4 linked regions of the Homo sapiens genome follow. The protein of the gene in region 4 interacts with the protein of the main gene of each other region in a pairwise test. Each region holds a gene or a part of one and is shown on either strand. Other genes may lie near its edges.

Evidence for each region. Proteins that work in one complex are often made in the same cells at the same time.
Region 1: the proteins of PECR (region 4) and TYSND1 come close enough for resonance energy transfer, tested with the Homo sapiens proteins (one large-scale study listed by BioGRID).
Region 2: the proteins of PECR (region 4) and SOD2 come close enough for resonance energy transfer, tested with the Homo sapiens proteins (one large-scale study listed by BioGRID).
Region 3: the proteins of PECR (region 4) and ABCD1 come close enough for resonance energy transfer, tested with the Homo sapiens proteins (one large-scale study listed by BioGRID).

What each region holds. Positions count from the first base shown.
Region 1 is NC_000010.11:70,140,591-70,143,700, reverse strand, and holds part of TYSND1 (peroxisomal leader peptide-processing protease), read left to right. Parts: intron 1-847; coding exon 848-1,033; intron 1,034-3,110. UniProt on the Homo sapiens protein: Peroxisomal protease that mediates both the removal of the leader peptide from proteins containing a PTS2 target sequence and processes several PTS1-containing proteins.
Region 2 is NC_000006.12:159,690,442-159,694,667, forward strand, and holds the start of SOD2 (superoxide dismutase [Mn], mitochondrial isoform A precursor), read right to left. Parts: upstream 2,801-4,226; 5' UTR 2,727-2,800; coding exon 2,704-2,726; intron 2,423-2,703; coding exon 2,220-2,422; coding exon of another isoform or gene 2,023-2,219; exon of another isoform or gene 478-2,022; intron 1-477. UniProt on the Homo sapiens protein: Destroys superoxide anion radicals which are normally produced within the cells and which are toxic to biological systems.
Region 3 is NC_000023.11:153,741,856-153,745,255, forward strand, and holds the end of ABCD1 (ATP-binding cassette sub-family D member 1), read left to right. Parts: intron 1-1,131; coding exon 1,132-1,216; intron 1,217-1,365; coding exon 1,366-1,491; intron 1,492-1,633; coding exon 1,634-1,880; 3' UTR 1,881-2,900; downstream 2,901-3,400. UniProt on the Homo sapiens protein: ATP-dependent transporter of the ATP-binding cassette (ABC) family involved in the transport of very long chain fatty acid (VLCFA)-CoA from the cytosol to the peroxisome lumen.
Region 4 is NC_000002.12:216,037,072-216,041,838, reverse strand, and holds the end of PECR (peroxisomal trans-2-enoyl-CoA reductase), read left to right. Parts: intron 1-2,478; coding exon 2,479-2,564; 3' UTR 2,565-3,451; downstream 3,452-4,767. UniProt on the Homo sapiens protein: Participates in chain elongation of fatty acids. Catalyzes the reduction of trans-2-enoyl-CoAs of varying chain lengths from 6:1 to 16:1, having maximum activity with 10:1 CoA. Has no 2,4-dienoyl-CoA reductase activity.

The DNA of each region.
Region 1 (3,110 bases), on a different chromosome or scaffold from region 4:
TGGTGGGGCACATGGAGTGCCCTGGGAAGGATAATGCTGCACGCCCTTTCCCCGAGTGCCTGCAGCAATGTAGTGTGAGGATGCTGGGCCTTTGGGGTTCCTTAACACTTCAGGCTGGTCAGAGAGGCATGTGGCACTTTCAAGGCTCCAGGGGCACGATTTGGGTAAAAGGCTTTGTGATGCTGCCACATAAGTACTGATGTTGCACTCCATGGAGGCAGTGTGATACAGTGATGAAGGGTCCAGGGGCTCTGGATGGGCATCTTTCCTATGCCACCTATTAGTCCCATGTCCTTGGACAGGCTAGTTAACTATCCTCTGCCTCATTTTCCACGTCTTTGAAATGGGGCTAATGCATCCTATTTCTGGGTGTTGTGAGGGCTGGGTGTGACGTTGCCTGTAAAGCACTTACCCCCATACCCTGCACTTGGAAAAGGAAGGTCATGGCTGCATTATAGCCATCATCACCATTTCTTTTCACGAAGAGACTTCTTAGGAGTTCCAGGAGGAGATGGGTGTGAATTCCACAAACATTTATTGAGCATGTAGGTAGGTGTTAGGAACTCCTAAAAGTCACTGCCCCGCCTGTCCAGGGAACAAGGACTAGGGAACAGCCTGTTGCTCAGAAGTGGTCATGCAGATACAGTGCTAGGAGCTCAGTGGAGTTCTCAGCCTCTTCCAGCCAGGGGACATGGGGAAGGCTCTCTGGAGGCAGGAGTATCTGAGCAGAAACTTGAAGGGTGGAGAGGTTTGGAATGTTTGGAGAGGGTAGGGATGGGAGTTAGGGAGTGTGAGTCCTGCTGTAACACAGGTGTCCCCAGCTTCACCCTCCTTCCTTCCCTGGCAGGCGAGGCTGTGAGTGTGGTGGGCTTTGGCGTCTTTGGCCAGTCTTGCGGGCCCTCGGTGACCTCAGGCATCCTTTCGGCTGTGGTGCAGGTGAATGGCACGCCCGTAATGCTGCAGACCACGTGTGCTGTGCACAGCGGCTCCAGTGGGGGACCCCTCTTCTCCAACCACTCAGGAAACCTCCTTGGTAACCAGCTCTTTGGCCCCCTCCCGCCCTCCCACTTGCCAGAACCTCAGTCCCACCCCATGAGTGCTTGTGGCCAGCCCCAGTGCACCCTCTGTCTGGGAAAATGGTGGGCATTATGAGTGAGCTAGCGAAGGTTTGCAGGCTGTTCTCCTGATGGTGGAGAGGGACGGATGCTGGACTGGGAGGAAAGAGATCTGGGCTCTGGTCCCTTCTCTGCTACTAATCTAATCTGGTTTGATCTGTGAAATTGAGGAGTTGGATTAGTCAAAGCGTCACAGACTCAAAAGCCAACAGAGGCTGGAAAGATAAAGCAAATGAATGAGAAGACAACAGGGAGGGGAGGGGAGGGGTCTAAACTGAAGCGCACTCGACTCAGCTGCTGCAGACTGTGGCCATGAAGGAGGATGGGCCTAACGTTGGCTGGTATTCTAATATTTTCACAAGACATGTAAAGCTTTTTTAAAAAAATACATGTGGCCGTTAAATCGATCAATTTTTAAATTTTGGTAACATTCAGGTTTTTAAAAAACAGTCTGTTTAGCTGTCAAAAAGAAAAAAACATGAGTTCATCTAGAAACCTCCAACTCCAGTCCAGTCTAACTCTCCTTGTTTCTTCTTTCTCCTGTAGTGAAAAACCTTGCTCTTGTTGTCTACAATATGTTTACTTATCTGTTCCATCCTAGTATACAAGTAAAATTGTATTTGCATAACTTTAGTATATTTCCTCTAAATATTTAGTACTTACAAAGAGGAAATATTGGAGCCGTAAGTAATATTTAGAGCCATAAGTCTAGGCCTGGTGTGGTAGCTCGTGCCAGTAATCCCAACACTTCCGGAGGCTGAGGCAAGAGGATCACTTGAAATGGGAGTTCGAGACCAGCCTGGGCAACATAGTGAGACTCTGCCTCTATTTTTATTTAAAAAAATTTTTTTTAATTAAAAAAAAAGAAAGGAAAATACTAAGTCTACCTTGGAGAGGCCTGGCAGATACCACCTCAGCCAAGTGATCAAGGTGAACGTCAGAAGTACTCCATACAGACATCAGATAGCTGAGACACTGGGAAGGACACATGGCTTTTATGGTATTCTTCCCAATAATGTGTAACCTTAAACAATTAAAAGTAATGGCAAAACAATTAAAAGTAATGACAAAAACCGCATTCATTTTTGCACCAACCCAATAGTCATGAGAAAACATTAGGTAGGCCTCAATTGAGGGTCATTCTCTAAAATCACTGACCTGAGCCAGACATGGTGGTATGTGCCTGTAGTCCTGGCTCTGCAGGAATCTGAAGTGGGAAGATCACTTGAGCCCAGGAGTTCAAGGCTGCAGTGAACTATGGTCACCATTACACTTTAGCCTGTGTGACAGAGCGAGACCCATCTCAAAAAAATAAACAGTGTTTATTTAAAAAAAAAAAAAAAAAAGCCAGGTATGGTGGCTCGCACTTGTAATTCTAGCACTTTTGGAGGCCAGGGCGGGAGGATTGCTTGAGTCTGGGAGTTCAAGACCAAGCTGGACAACCATAGTGAGGCCCCATCTCTACAAAATATTTTAGGGAGGCTGAGGCGGGAGAATCACTTGAGCCCAGGAGGTTGAGGTTGCAGTGAGCTATAATCCCACCACTGCACTCTAGCATGGGTGACAGAGCGAGACCTTGCCTCTAAAAAAACAAAAACAAGAACAAAAAAAAAAACTGTAAATAAATAAAATAACCTGCACTTTTAAAAATGTCAAGGCCACGAAAGATAAGGAAAGACTGAGGAACTGACCCAGATTGGAGGAGATTTGGGAGATGCGACAACTAAATGGAATATGGAGTCCTAGACTGGATATTGGAACTGAAAAAGGACATTAGTGGAAAAACTAGTGCAACTCATGTCAATGAGTTCTGTAGTTCACTTAATAACAGTATTCTACCAAGGTATATGTTTTGGTTTTGATAAATATTTTTTGGTGACATTAGATACGAACATAAAGGAAAGCTGGTCAAAGGGTATATAGAATTCTGCAATATTTAGGCAAGACTTCTGTATGTCTGAAATTATCTTTAAAAAACTACACACACATCCATGC
Region 2 (4,226 bases), on a different chromosome or scaffold from region 4:
AGAATTAAAAAAAAAATTTTTAAAAGGAACATACGTAGACAATGCTGCTTTCTGAAACAAGCTCCAGTTGTTTAGCGATTCAGAAAGGAGAGAACCAACTGATATCTGAATACACAGCTAATCTCAAAGGGTTTTTTAAAGACACCAACTTTTTTTTTCCTTTGTTAGGTTTACAAACAGTTTTTTATAGATCTGTGTTTCCCTTATTAAATTTTCTTGAGAGTCACTCTAAAAATAGATGTAACTTTTCTATTGTTTTTTAATAAATCAATAGTAACTGAATTTTTAAAATGGGAAAGATACATGCTTAATGAGAGATAATTTAATAATCTTAACATCTTACAGTTTGCTTACTCATTTTAAAATTAATAAAAATTGAGGGCTTAATATCTGCTTTTAAGAACACTTTTCTGAAATTCAACATTTTATTTGGTTTCAGTTTAGTTTTTGCCTCAAATAATAATAAAAGTCAAATGCTTTTTGTTGAAAAATATTCATATTAGTCAGTTAAATGTGATGAGATTATGACATTGTTTTATCTTTTTTCCCCAAGTTTTCAAACATGAAAATCTTTTTAATAATTTTTAAAATATGTTTAAGTAAAAGAAAGCTCTGCAGGTACTCAATCACTTATAAACAATATAGTACAATACAATAAAAAGCTTTTTTCCAGTGGGTTGTATTACATAAGTAAGGCTCTGATTCCACAAGTAAAGGACTGAAATTAAGTTGTTTTTAAAATACTGAAGAGAAAGGTTCCTGGTGTCAGATGTTGCCTTACAGGAAGTACTTTCACAACTGGGGTATTCCCCAGTCTCTCCCCATTACATGTTTCCCAAATTTGTTATTTCCTAAATCACGGGGCCTTTTCCCGTAATTCAAGGTTCGTCTGTCTCAAGTAAATCTTCCAGAATGTGGTAACTTCCTCCTCTTTTAATCATTTACTTCAAACACAATCAGGCTGAAATACTGCATTTTTCCACTAGATGCCTCCAGTCAACAAGATGTGACTGTCTAAAAATTACTCAACAAATTTCATAACCCCGAAATTCAAAACATTTAAGGAAAAGTAAACATTTTTTACTACGTAGCTTACCAAGCAATACAGAGAGTCTAAAAAACATGACTATCGATTATCTTCCTTGTGCAAACCACTAACGAATAAATTAAAAAGACAATACTATTTTGTAAAAAACGTTAAAACATAACATTCCCATACACACCCCCAAAAGGCACAGACTCAAAAAGTCCACATACCCCTGGTTTTATCAACCGAGCTCTTGAGAAAAAAAAAAAAAGTTAACAACATATATTTTAATTGCATTACAAATATGAGTAAATAGTAAATAAAAACAAGCCTGTTTCAGTTTCCCACTAAAGGGCTATTTTCCTTGTGAACTTTGACCCCTAAGGGAAATCAAGAAAAGTATCAAGTCTAAAGATCCTGAACTGTTCCACAGTTAGGTTACTGCTTTTTTGGTAACGCACACCACAACGGTGTGCCTCCTCCTCTCCCACCTGAAGTCAAGTGGGCTCAGTGAAGTTTCACCTGCAGGGTAGCTGGGGATGCAGGGAGTCTCCAAGTCCTAGGCTGGAGTCCCGACCCCGTTTGCTCTCAGGAAGATGACAAGGACCATGGTTCCTAGCACGGAGTAGTGTCCTCCTGTCTCCCACCTTCAGTGTGACCTGGCAGTAAGACACCACTCCCACTTCTATCAGGAGGTGACCCTGACACTCAGAGACACCTGCGGACCCGATGATGTCTGGCCACCAGTGGACAGGCGCTCTCAGCCCTCCTGCAAACGGCTGGCACACCTACCTGAGAGACCAAACATTTCCCCAAAGCACATTATACAACAAGAACAATTTCAATTTGCAAAAAAAACGAGTGACACAGTAGAGCTTTCTTTTCAGGCCCTACAATTCACCAGTGCTGGCAATATGTGTAACGGAATGTGGCTCACAACAGTAAGGCAAGCTCCTTCGCAGGACCCCAAGTTCCCTGAGATGACAGAAGTGTGTTCAAACCCATCGAGGCACTCCTTCTACAATGAGGTAGACCATGTGTTTAAAAGAGAGACTATCGTGCCTGGAAAACTCGGAACCGGTACAAATACGAAGCGAGTTCTCCTCCACGGAGAGGCCCGTCCGTATGGGGCCTGGCTCCCTGGGGTCGCCTCTGCCGGGGACTGCCTCCCGCCGCTCAGCCTGGAACCTACCCTTGGCCAACGCCTCCTGGTACTTCTCCTCGGTGACGTTCAGGTTGTTCACGTAGGCCGCGTGGTGCTTGCTGTGGTGCAGCTGCATGATCTGCGCGTTGATGTGAGGTTCCAGGGCGCCGTAGTCGTAGGGCAGGTCGGGGAGGCTGTGCTTCTGCCTGGAGCCCAGATACCCCAAAACCGGAGCCAGCTGCCTGCTGGTGCTGAAGACGAGAAAGCACAGCCCGGTCAGTCAGCGCCGCGGGACCGTCTACGCAGGCTGGGCTGCCGAGGAACGGCAGCGCGCGGCGTCCCCCGAGTCCCCGCGTCCCCTCCCTGCGGATCCCCGCTCCAGCCGCCGCGCCGGGCACTCCCGGGAGAACCGCCTGCAGGTGCCCCGGTCCCGCCAGGCCCGGTGCGGCCACTGTCGCCATTGCCGCGGAGGCCCTGCCCGCCGCGAGCCCCTTCGCCCTTGGGGCCGTGACCGGGTCCCCTTTCTTCTCACCCGCACACTGCCCGGCTCAACATGCTGCTAGTGCTGGTGCTACCGCTGATGCCGCCGATCTGCTGAAGCCGCTGCCGAAGCCACCACAGCCACGAGTGCCGCTCCTGCGCCGCCCGCGGGCCTTAAGAAAGCGCGGGGAGCAGGGCCGCGACCCCAGCTGCGCCGCAAGGGCACCGCCGCCCCGCCCCCCCCCCCCGCGGGCCCCGCCCCGCGCCCGCCGCGCCCAACCCCGGGGGTGCCCTGCGTGCCTGTCCCGCCCGCCCGCGCTTGCCGTACACCCCGCGCCCAGGGCACGGGAGAAAGGAGGCTGCAGGCTAGCCTCGGCCTCGGCAACCTCGCTGCCTGTCTGCCGTACTTGAGTGGCGCGCGGCCGAAGGGAGGCGGCCCCTGCCCCCGTGGAGTTGGTACGGCCCGAAGGCCCTGCCTCCGGCTCCGCCCCTGAGGGTGCCGGCGGGGATCTGGCTGCACTAGGCGGCTGCGGCGCCTGCCCCTGAGTTTTGGTTGCGCTGCCGGGGGGCCGCGGGGTCCAGAGGCCTCACTGCAAAAAGACATTCATACCCTCCCAGGGCCCCCGTGGCCGTTCCTAGGGAAGACGGGGCCTAGCTGCTGGTCAGCGCCGCCCAGCCGGCCTATGAGCTGAGGGTAGAGCCAGCGCCCTTCCAACCCGTATTCAGTACTCTTGCGCCGTACCCTTGCTTTGCAAGTAAGCCGACCTTGGGACCTATTCCAGGACAGGAGGCACACAGACTTTGTCCCCACCGGCTGCCTAAGAACAGTTCTTGGACACCCACGACGTGCCCGAGACTGCAGGCAGGATTTGCACACATTTATCTTTATTTTTACCCCTAGGGTTGGTATTATTGATTCTAGTAATAGTGAAATCCTTTGAGGTTAAGCAGCTTCTCCTGGGCACAGTTAACTGAGTCAGGACTAGTTCCCACCTTCCTCACTACTAAGCCCTGGCAGTCATGTTTTGTGTGTTTACAGTAACTCTGTGAACCAACTGTTCAGGATAACATAAAAGGACAACAGAGGATTCTTTCCTGCGCTGTCTTGTAGCCTAGTAAGCTGTTAAGTATCAAGTGCTCTCTCAACAGTTAAACAACAATCCTGAATGGTGTGAATCTTCCATGTGTAGAGGTTAGGAAATCTACACTGCCATTGGCGGGAGTTGCCCCTTTATTGAAAAGAATATGATGGAAGGTAGCAGGTGCTGAACCGTTTCCGTTGCTTCTTGCAACCCCCGTACAGCCCTCCGAAGGATGACTAGGCTTCCGGTAAGTGGAATGGGAAAACAGTCAGGCGAAGAGGAACCACCTGAACTTGGCTTCACAACAGGAAGGGCTGGGCTTGTTTACAGACGTCAGAAGAATGTAACTAGGGCTACGTGTTGGGGTGAAAAAGGAAATTCAGGCTGGGACCAGGTTATAGATACTCTTATTTTTTTAATTTATTATTTATTTATTTTTGAGACACAGCCTCGCTCTGTCGCTCAGGCTGGAGTACTGTGTCGCGATGTCGGC
Region 3 (3,400 bases), on a different chromosome or scaffold from region 4:
GGTCCCAAGAGAGCCAGGCCACGGTTGCCAGGGCTGGCCCTGCTCTGTGAAGGCCCCAGGGCTCGAGGATTTTCTACCAGGTCACTCTGCTGTGTTTGGCCTCCGTTCCCAAAGTCACCTCATGATCCAGGAGGGCTGCTGCAGCCCTCACATCATGTCCCAGGCTGTAGGATGGAGGAAGTAGAAGGGAAGGGGCAAAAGGTATGTGCCTTCTTTTAAGGAAGGTTCCAGAAGCCGCCATATTGAATACTTACAGTTATATCTCATTGGCCACAACTTAGTCTCATGCTCACACCTCATCACAAGGCCACCTGGGAAGCGTAATCTCTACTCTGGGTGGCCATATGCCCTGTTGCCACTTCTAGCCCTGGGCCGCTGGGGAAGGCAGCATGGGCGAGAAGACAGGAAGGGCCGCTTCTGCCGCAGCGCCCCGACCTAATGGAGCAGCCGGCTCACCTGCTCGTTCAAGCAGCCCACTCGAGCCTTGCCAAAGTGCTGACACGGGGCAGTGACAGGAGGCCCAACCCCTGTGGGTGACAAGCCCCCGGTCTGGGGAGAGCACTCAGGCCGCTCTGGAGCTCTGTGCCAAGGAACTGTATGGGTGCCCTGGGGCTGCCATAAACCGCAGGGATGGATTGTCTCCTAGATCCAGCAGTCCGAGATCCAGGTGCCAGCAGGGTGGGCTCCTTCCGGGTGCCATGACAGAAGGATGTGTTCCAGGCCTCTGTCCTCGGCTCGCAGATGGTCCACTTCTCCCTGTATATCTTCACCTCATGTTCCCCTGTGCATGTCTTCTGCCCACACACCCCCTTTTTATGAGGACACAGTCATATTGAATTAGGGTCCACTCTGATGACCTCATCTTAGTGTGATCACCTCTGCGAAGGCCCTGTCTCCAAATAAGGTCACACTGAAGTGTTGGGGCTTGGACTCCACCGTATCTCTTCTGGGGGAAGGCACGATTCCAGTCCCCACTCCTCCATGATTAATGCCTGTCAGACAGACAAGGACGCAGAGGCACAGGGGCCCTGTCGTCACAGCTAGCTCATTCCCGCAGCTCCCCCAGCTCCCCGGCTGGCCCCCGGGTCTGGGTGCTGGTGGAACTGAGCCAAGACCATTGCCCCCGCCTAGGTTGGGAGGCTATGTGTGACTGGAAGGACGTCCTGTCGGGTGGCGAGAAGCAGAGAATCGGCATGGCCCGCATGTTCTACCACAGGTGAGCACTCCGGGCCGGCAGGCTCCCTGGGGTCCCCTGGAAGGGGAAGTAGCAGCTGTGGGGAGGCCTGGGCTCAGTGGAGCCTGAGCCGGGCTGGGGTGTTGGGCCCTGGAGGGTGCACAGACTCTCCTCTCGGCCCGGACCCCCAGGCCCAAGTACGCCCTCCTGGATGAATGCACCAGCGCCGTGAGCATCGACGTGGAAGGCAAGATCTTCCAGGCGGCCAAGGACGCGGGCATTGCCCTGCTCTCCATCACCCACCGGCCCTCCCTGTGGTAGGTGCCCTGTCTCCCTGCCTGGGGTCGGTGGGAGTGGCTGCCTGAGGGGAGGAGGTGGCCTGGCGGGCCCGGCAGCAGCAGGCGGCTGTCATCAGCAGCCCCCGTGCCGTGCCCCTGACCCTGTCCCTCTCCTGGCCAGGAAATACCACACACACTTGCTACAGTTCGATGGGGAGGGCGGCTGGAAGTTCGAGAAGCTGGACTCAGCTGCCCGCCTGAGCCTGACGGAGGAGAAGCAGCGGCTGGAGCAGCAGCTGGCGGGCATTCCCAAGATGCAGCGGCGCCTCCAGGAGCTCTGCCAGATCCTGGGCGAGGCCGTGGCCCCAGCGCATGTGCCGGCACCTAGCCCGCAAGGCCCTGGTGGCCTCCAGGGTGCCTCCACCTGACACAACCGTCCCCGGCCCCTGCCCCGCCCCCAAGCTCGGATCACATGAAGGAGACAGCAGCACCCACCCATGCACGCACCCCGCCCCTGCATGCCTGGCCCCTCCTCCTAGAAAACCCTTCCCGCCCTCGGGAAAGTAGATGTGGAGGGTGGCGCCCTGCGTAACCCTCGCCCTGTCCCTCCCACTCCCTGGGGGCGCTGTTCCACAGTGACTGGGCCCTGTCCAGGGCAGTGAGTCCTCTACTTTGCTCCGTGGAGGAAGCTGGGGTACAAGGGGCCCAGTGCTGGCCACACAGCAGCGCAGCCGAGCCCCAGGAGCCCGTCAGGCCACAGCCCCTGGCACTGCAGGTGGCCTCCCTCCAGAGACTCGAGTCCCCATGATTCCCTCCTCGTCAGTCTCTCAAAGACCCCATGGTCCATCCCCTGAGGGTGGTCAGCCAAGGCTCCCGTTCCGTGGGATGCCATAAAAGCCGCCCAGTGGGACCCACAGTCACACAGAGCGCCTCACCTGCATCCTCTCCCCCACAAGAGCCCCAAAGATCCCACGGGAGAGGGGAGAGGGACGCACAGCACTGCCTGCCAAGCGAGAATGCAGGCCCCGCCCCCTCGGCCCCTCACCACCTCTTTCTACAGCCTAATTTATTGGATTCCCTATTCGTAGCCATCTCCGTGGCCAATGTGACTACCGTGCCAGCAGCGGGGGCGGCCCAGCCTCTGAGTCCCGTGGGGCCCCGGCTCCCACCGGTGCCAAACCCAGCCCCTGCGGCCGTCACCCCGCCAGCCTACACTGCCAGCCGCCACCGGGGCACACGGGCCTCTGCTTGCCAGCCAGGAGTGCGGACACCATGTTCCCAGCTCAGTGCCAAAGAGGGGTCACCAGGGGGAGCTGTCTGCGGAGCCAGCGCCTGCCCGAGAGAGACCCCACCGCCACCGTGTGCCTTTCCCGGGCCCTCAGCCCTCGGGCCGGGCACCACCCCCAGTCCCCCCAGTAAAAGCCTCCACTGGCAAATGCAGTCCTTCCTCCCTGCCTCAGAGCCTGGTGGTGTCTGCTGTGGGTCTCGAGGAGAGATGGAGGAGAGGGAGTGGGTTGCCTGTGGGGGAAAGAGTGAGTTTGGGAAAGGAGTGGGCCTGACCCCCAAGCCCCTCCGAGGGGGAAAGTCACCAGAAGACATGGTCCAGCATGCCCTCCGCCGAGCCTCACGCCAATGCTCTTAGGATTCCTGTGACGGTGGCGGGGCGGAACCTGCAACAACATTGCACAGAAATACTGGCTGAGCCCAAATAGGACTAGGGGAGGGGATCATGCTGGTCCCTGTGGGAGGAGCACGAAGGCAAGAGAAGGGATGTCTAAGCTGCCACACAGGGTGCTGCTGGCCCTTCTAGGGAGAGGCGGCCACTTGTGCAGGGGCCTGGGGGGAACTGGGAGCACAGCGCAGGGTGTTCGTGCTGCATGCAGGGGAAGGGAGGGCAGGGGAAGGGAGGGCTGCGGCCGGCGGGCCTTGGAGGCCACACTACAGAGAC
Region 4 (4,767 bases):
CTTGAACCCAGTCCTTTGGGTTTTTATGGAGGCTTCATTACATAGGCATGGTTGATTAAACCATCAGCCACTGGTGATCAACTTAACCTTCAGCCCCTCTTACCTCCCCAGAGGTTGTGGGGTGGGTATGGGCTGAAGGTCCCAACCCTGTAATCATGCCTTGGTCTGTCTGGTGACCAGCCCCTATACTGAAGCTAACTAGGGGCTGCCAGCCATCAGTCAATCATTAACATATAAGAACACATCACTTTGGCGAGTCTAGGATATTAGGAGTTGTATGCGGGAGATGGGGTTGAAGACCAAATATATGTTTCACAATATCACAGTATAGAACTTTAATTTTACTTATTATTTTCCCCTCCCACATGTATTTCATTACTAATAACATCAATGTGGTGATGTCCATAGGATACTGTAGTTTTAAGGGTCTTGGTTGGAAAGAAGAAATACCTACATGGTTTTGCCATATTGTTTTCTGAAAAAAATTCCAAGTAGTGAGGGTGGAGAGAATCTTTCCACTTCTCTCACAGTAGACTTCAGTCACTATTTCTTATCGCAGGTTGCACTGTTTTACCTTTAGAAGGGAAAGAAATTTCAAATAGCTTCTTCCTTAGGCCTTCAGTGACATGATTTTCTTTTGTAATTCTAACACTTTTTATCATTAAAAATATTTTTTTCAGTTTTTGAGGAAAGCGGGTACATCTATCTTTTAAGAATATACTGCCCCCCGAATAATGAGATTATTCAGCCTTTCACTATGGTGTTTTCTTTTAAGATTGGCAGCTCCAAGGTGAGAATGCCTAAGATGGAAACTTGGCTCTACCCTTATTAGCCGTATGATTGTGAGAAAGTTAATTTCTATAAGCCTCTATTTTGTTCCTGTATGCAGGGACACATACAGTATTTATTTCATAGAGCTGTTGGGAGGATTAAATTAGATAAGGGACTTTTTCTTTTCTTTTTTTTTGAGACAGAGTCTCACTCTTGTTGCCCAGGCTGGAGTGCAGTGACATGATTTCGGCTCACTGCAATCTCTGCCTCCCAGGTTCAAGCAATTCTCCTGCCTCAGGATCCAGAGTAGCTGGGATTACAGGTGCCCGACACTATGCCCCACTAATTTTTTTGTAGTTTTAGTAGAGATGGAGTTTCACTATGTTGGCCAGGCTAGTCTCGAACTCCTGACCTCAGGTGATCCGCCTGCCTCGGCCTCCCAAAGTGCTGGGATTACAGGCATGAGCCACTGTGCCTGGCCTTAGATAATGCACATTTAAATCCCTATGTCAGGGGCTGGGCACCATGGCTCACACCTGTAATCTCAGCACTTTGGGAGGCAAAGGTGGGCCAATTGCTTGATCCCAGGAATTCAAGACCAGCCTGGGCAACCTGGCAAAACTCCGTCTCAACAAAACATTTAAAAAATTAGCCTGGCATGGTGGCATGTGCCTGTACTTGGGAGGCTTAGGTGGGAGGATCACTGGAGCCCGGGAAGTCGAGGTTGCAGTGAGCCATGATTGCACAACTGCACTCCAGCCTGGCTGACAGAGCAAGACCCTGTCTCAAAAAATAAAAATTAAAAAAATAAAGTCATTTGTCGAATTGGATGCTTTTAGTCACAACTCAAAATGGGCTCATCAGTAAAGGAATTCGCTGGCACATAACTGAAAAACAGGTAAGACTTGACTTAGTAGCTCACTGATCTCATCAAGGACAAGTTTTTCCCCTGTTTCCTGTTTTTGCCTCCATGGTGTTGGCTCTATCTTAAGGCAGGCTCTCCTCATTGCAGGATGGCTGCCTGCTGTTTCTATGTGTAAGGCTGATACTTCTGTGTTCATACCCAGATGCACAGAGAGAGGGCTGGAGGAGTGACTTTGTTCCAGAATTTCTAACAAAATTCTGAGATCCACTCTATATTCGATCAACTTATGCAAATGTCCATTTCCAACCAATAACTGTGGCGGGGTTATAGTGCACTGACTGACTTAGCTTAGACCACATGCCTTGGTGCCAAGCTTCCCTGGCACCTTCTAGATCGTTAAATGGAAACAAGCTGTTGGAAAGAAGAGATGGGGACCTGGATGCTGGAGAGGCAAGTAGCAGTGCCTGGTACAAAGTAAGGACACTATTTTTAAATTGTGATTATTAAGGAGACACTATTTATTGACGATCCACAGTATGCGAAGCACTGCACACATGGTGTCATATTTAACCCTCACAACTTTAAAAGGTAGATATTGTTGTATCCTTTAATAGAGGAGGAAACTGAGGCTCAGGAAGAGACATGTGCCCAAATTCAGGAAAGCTAACGTGTGGCAGACCTGAGATTCAAATTGAAGTCTTTTCTCAAATGTTTGCCCTAAGGATTTATTTTTTGGTGCTGAGAAAATGTGTGAACCAGGGAAATTAACAAGAGGATTTGGTGGGAGTGAAGAGGGCAAATGAGATTTGCAAGTGACAGGAGGCTTTCCACTTCTTTAACAGATCATGACAACTGGCCCAAGGGAGCAGGGGACCTTTCTGTTGTCAAAAAGATGAAGGAGACCTTTAAGGAGAAAGCTAAGCTCTGAGCTGAGGAAACAAGGTGTCCTCCATCCCCCAGTGCCTTCACATCTTGAGGATATGCTTCTGTACTTTTTAAAAGCTTATAGTTGGTATGGAAAACATTTTTCTTATTTTTAAGTGTTATTAATTATATCTATGGAAAAACTATTCCTGAAATATATACAGTCTTATGTCCCAATCAGAGTCTTTTAACCTATGATTTAAAAATGTATAAGTAACAGAAATTAACATATTTTAATGACTTTACTTTTTATTTCTAAGAAAAGTATTTGAAAAATGGAATAATTTTAAATCAATGATAATTCTAGGGATCATGAACTCCCAGAAGATTTTATTATTTAATTGTAAAGGTAGAGGCCAGACGCAGTGGCTCACGCCTGTAATTCCAGCACTTTGGGAGGCCGAGGTAGGCGGGTCAGTTGAGGTCAGGAGTTCAAGACCAGGCTGGCCAACATGGTAAAACCCTGTCTCTACTGAAAAACAACAAAAACAAAAACACAAATTAGTCGGGTGTGGTGGCACACACCTGTAGTCCCAGGTACTTGGGAGGCTGAGGCAGGAGGATCGCTTGAACCCAGGAAGCAGAGGTTGCAGTGAGCTGAGATCATGCTACTGCAGTCCAGCCTGGGCTACAGAGTGAGACTGCATCTCAAAAAAAACCCAAAAAACAAAAACAAACAACAACAACAAAATTATAAAGGTAGAAAATAAACCTAAATTGTGTCGTAATTAAGATTATTAAAATTAGAATTATACAATGACTTATTTTTGGTGGCAAATACTTTAGGAGCAATAATGCCTTATGGTAATTATTGATGTATAGTTTCTTTTGTTTATGAAGTCAAATTTGTATAAATTCTCTTAATTCAAAGAAAAAGTTTTATGTGATTTATTTTTGGCAGTGCCTGATTTGTGTCTTGATTTTCTGTCCAAAGTATTCCCTTTTTTCCATGTATCTCCTTTTGTAGGCAAAAACAAAATTTCAGTTGCATGCAAATGTATTAGGGTTCCATATTCTGCCTTCCGTGGCTCCAGTCTGATAGTTAGACCCTTATTGAAGAAATGCCTTTAGCAGATTGAATATGTTCATTCTTTGTCTTAATCAAAGTTCTTTCAAGTATCTGAGGTGAAGTAGCTATTTTCTTTTTTTTATCATTAACACTCACTTTATTTATTTATTTATTTATTTATTTTTAAGATGGAGTCTCACTCTGTCACCCAGGCTGGAGTGCAGTAGCATAATCTCGGCTCACCACAACCTCCACCTCCTGGGTTCAAGTGATTCTGCTGCTTCAGCCTCCTGCGTAGCTGGGATGACAGGTGTGCACCACCACGCCCGGCCAATTTTTGTATTTTTAGTAGAGATGGTGTTTCACCATATTGGCCAGGCTGGTCTTGATCTCCTGACCTTAAGTGATCTGCCCGCTTTGGCCTCCCAAATTGCTGGGATTACAGGTGAGAGCCACCACGCCCGGCCTGTCATTTACCCTCATTTTAAAGTGTGTGAGTTACCAAGCTCTGGGGTTTGGGACCCAGAATCTGCAGCTTTCTCATGCTCCCAAGCAGGGCTAGCACGAGGGAGAGGCTAATGAGGTGCCCAGGGTGCAGCATTTAAGGAGCTATTCTCCATTGTCAGGTTTGTGCCAGTGCAGAATTGCCCCTGAGAGTGAGTGTGTCCTTCAATTTTGTGCTCATACTAATAATGTGGGAAGATCAGAAAGCTTCATTTTCCTCCCAGATAGCCCTTTAACAGTGGCCTTCTGGAACTGATAATATCATAACAACTGAGAATTACAAACCATGTTAGAGGGAAAAGTGGCCCTAATACAGGTTGGTGGAGAAGATGGAAAAGGCAGGGCTTGCTTTCACATGACCTGTGTTAATGACTGCCATCGACTCCTTAAATCTCCATAGCGTTGCCAGTTATTTCTGCTTAAGGGACAGAACCTGCCTATGTAGCACTAAACTTAGGTACAACTGCTTATTAGAGCTTCTTCTTAGACTATCACTGGACAGCTGGTCATTATCTATATTTTTAGAATTATGAATTTATTATCCAGGACTCTTATGTACATCATAATAGTATCCTGTCAATAATGTACTTTTGCAACTACGCTTAGTAAATTTTGTTGTAGAGTGACTGTTCTTGAATAGGCTTAATAATTTGGAGCACCTACTATGTATTTAGCATTATGCTAGGAGTCAGAC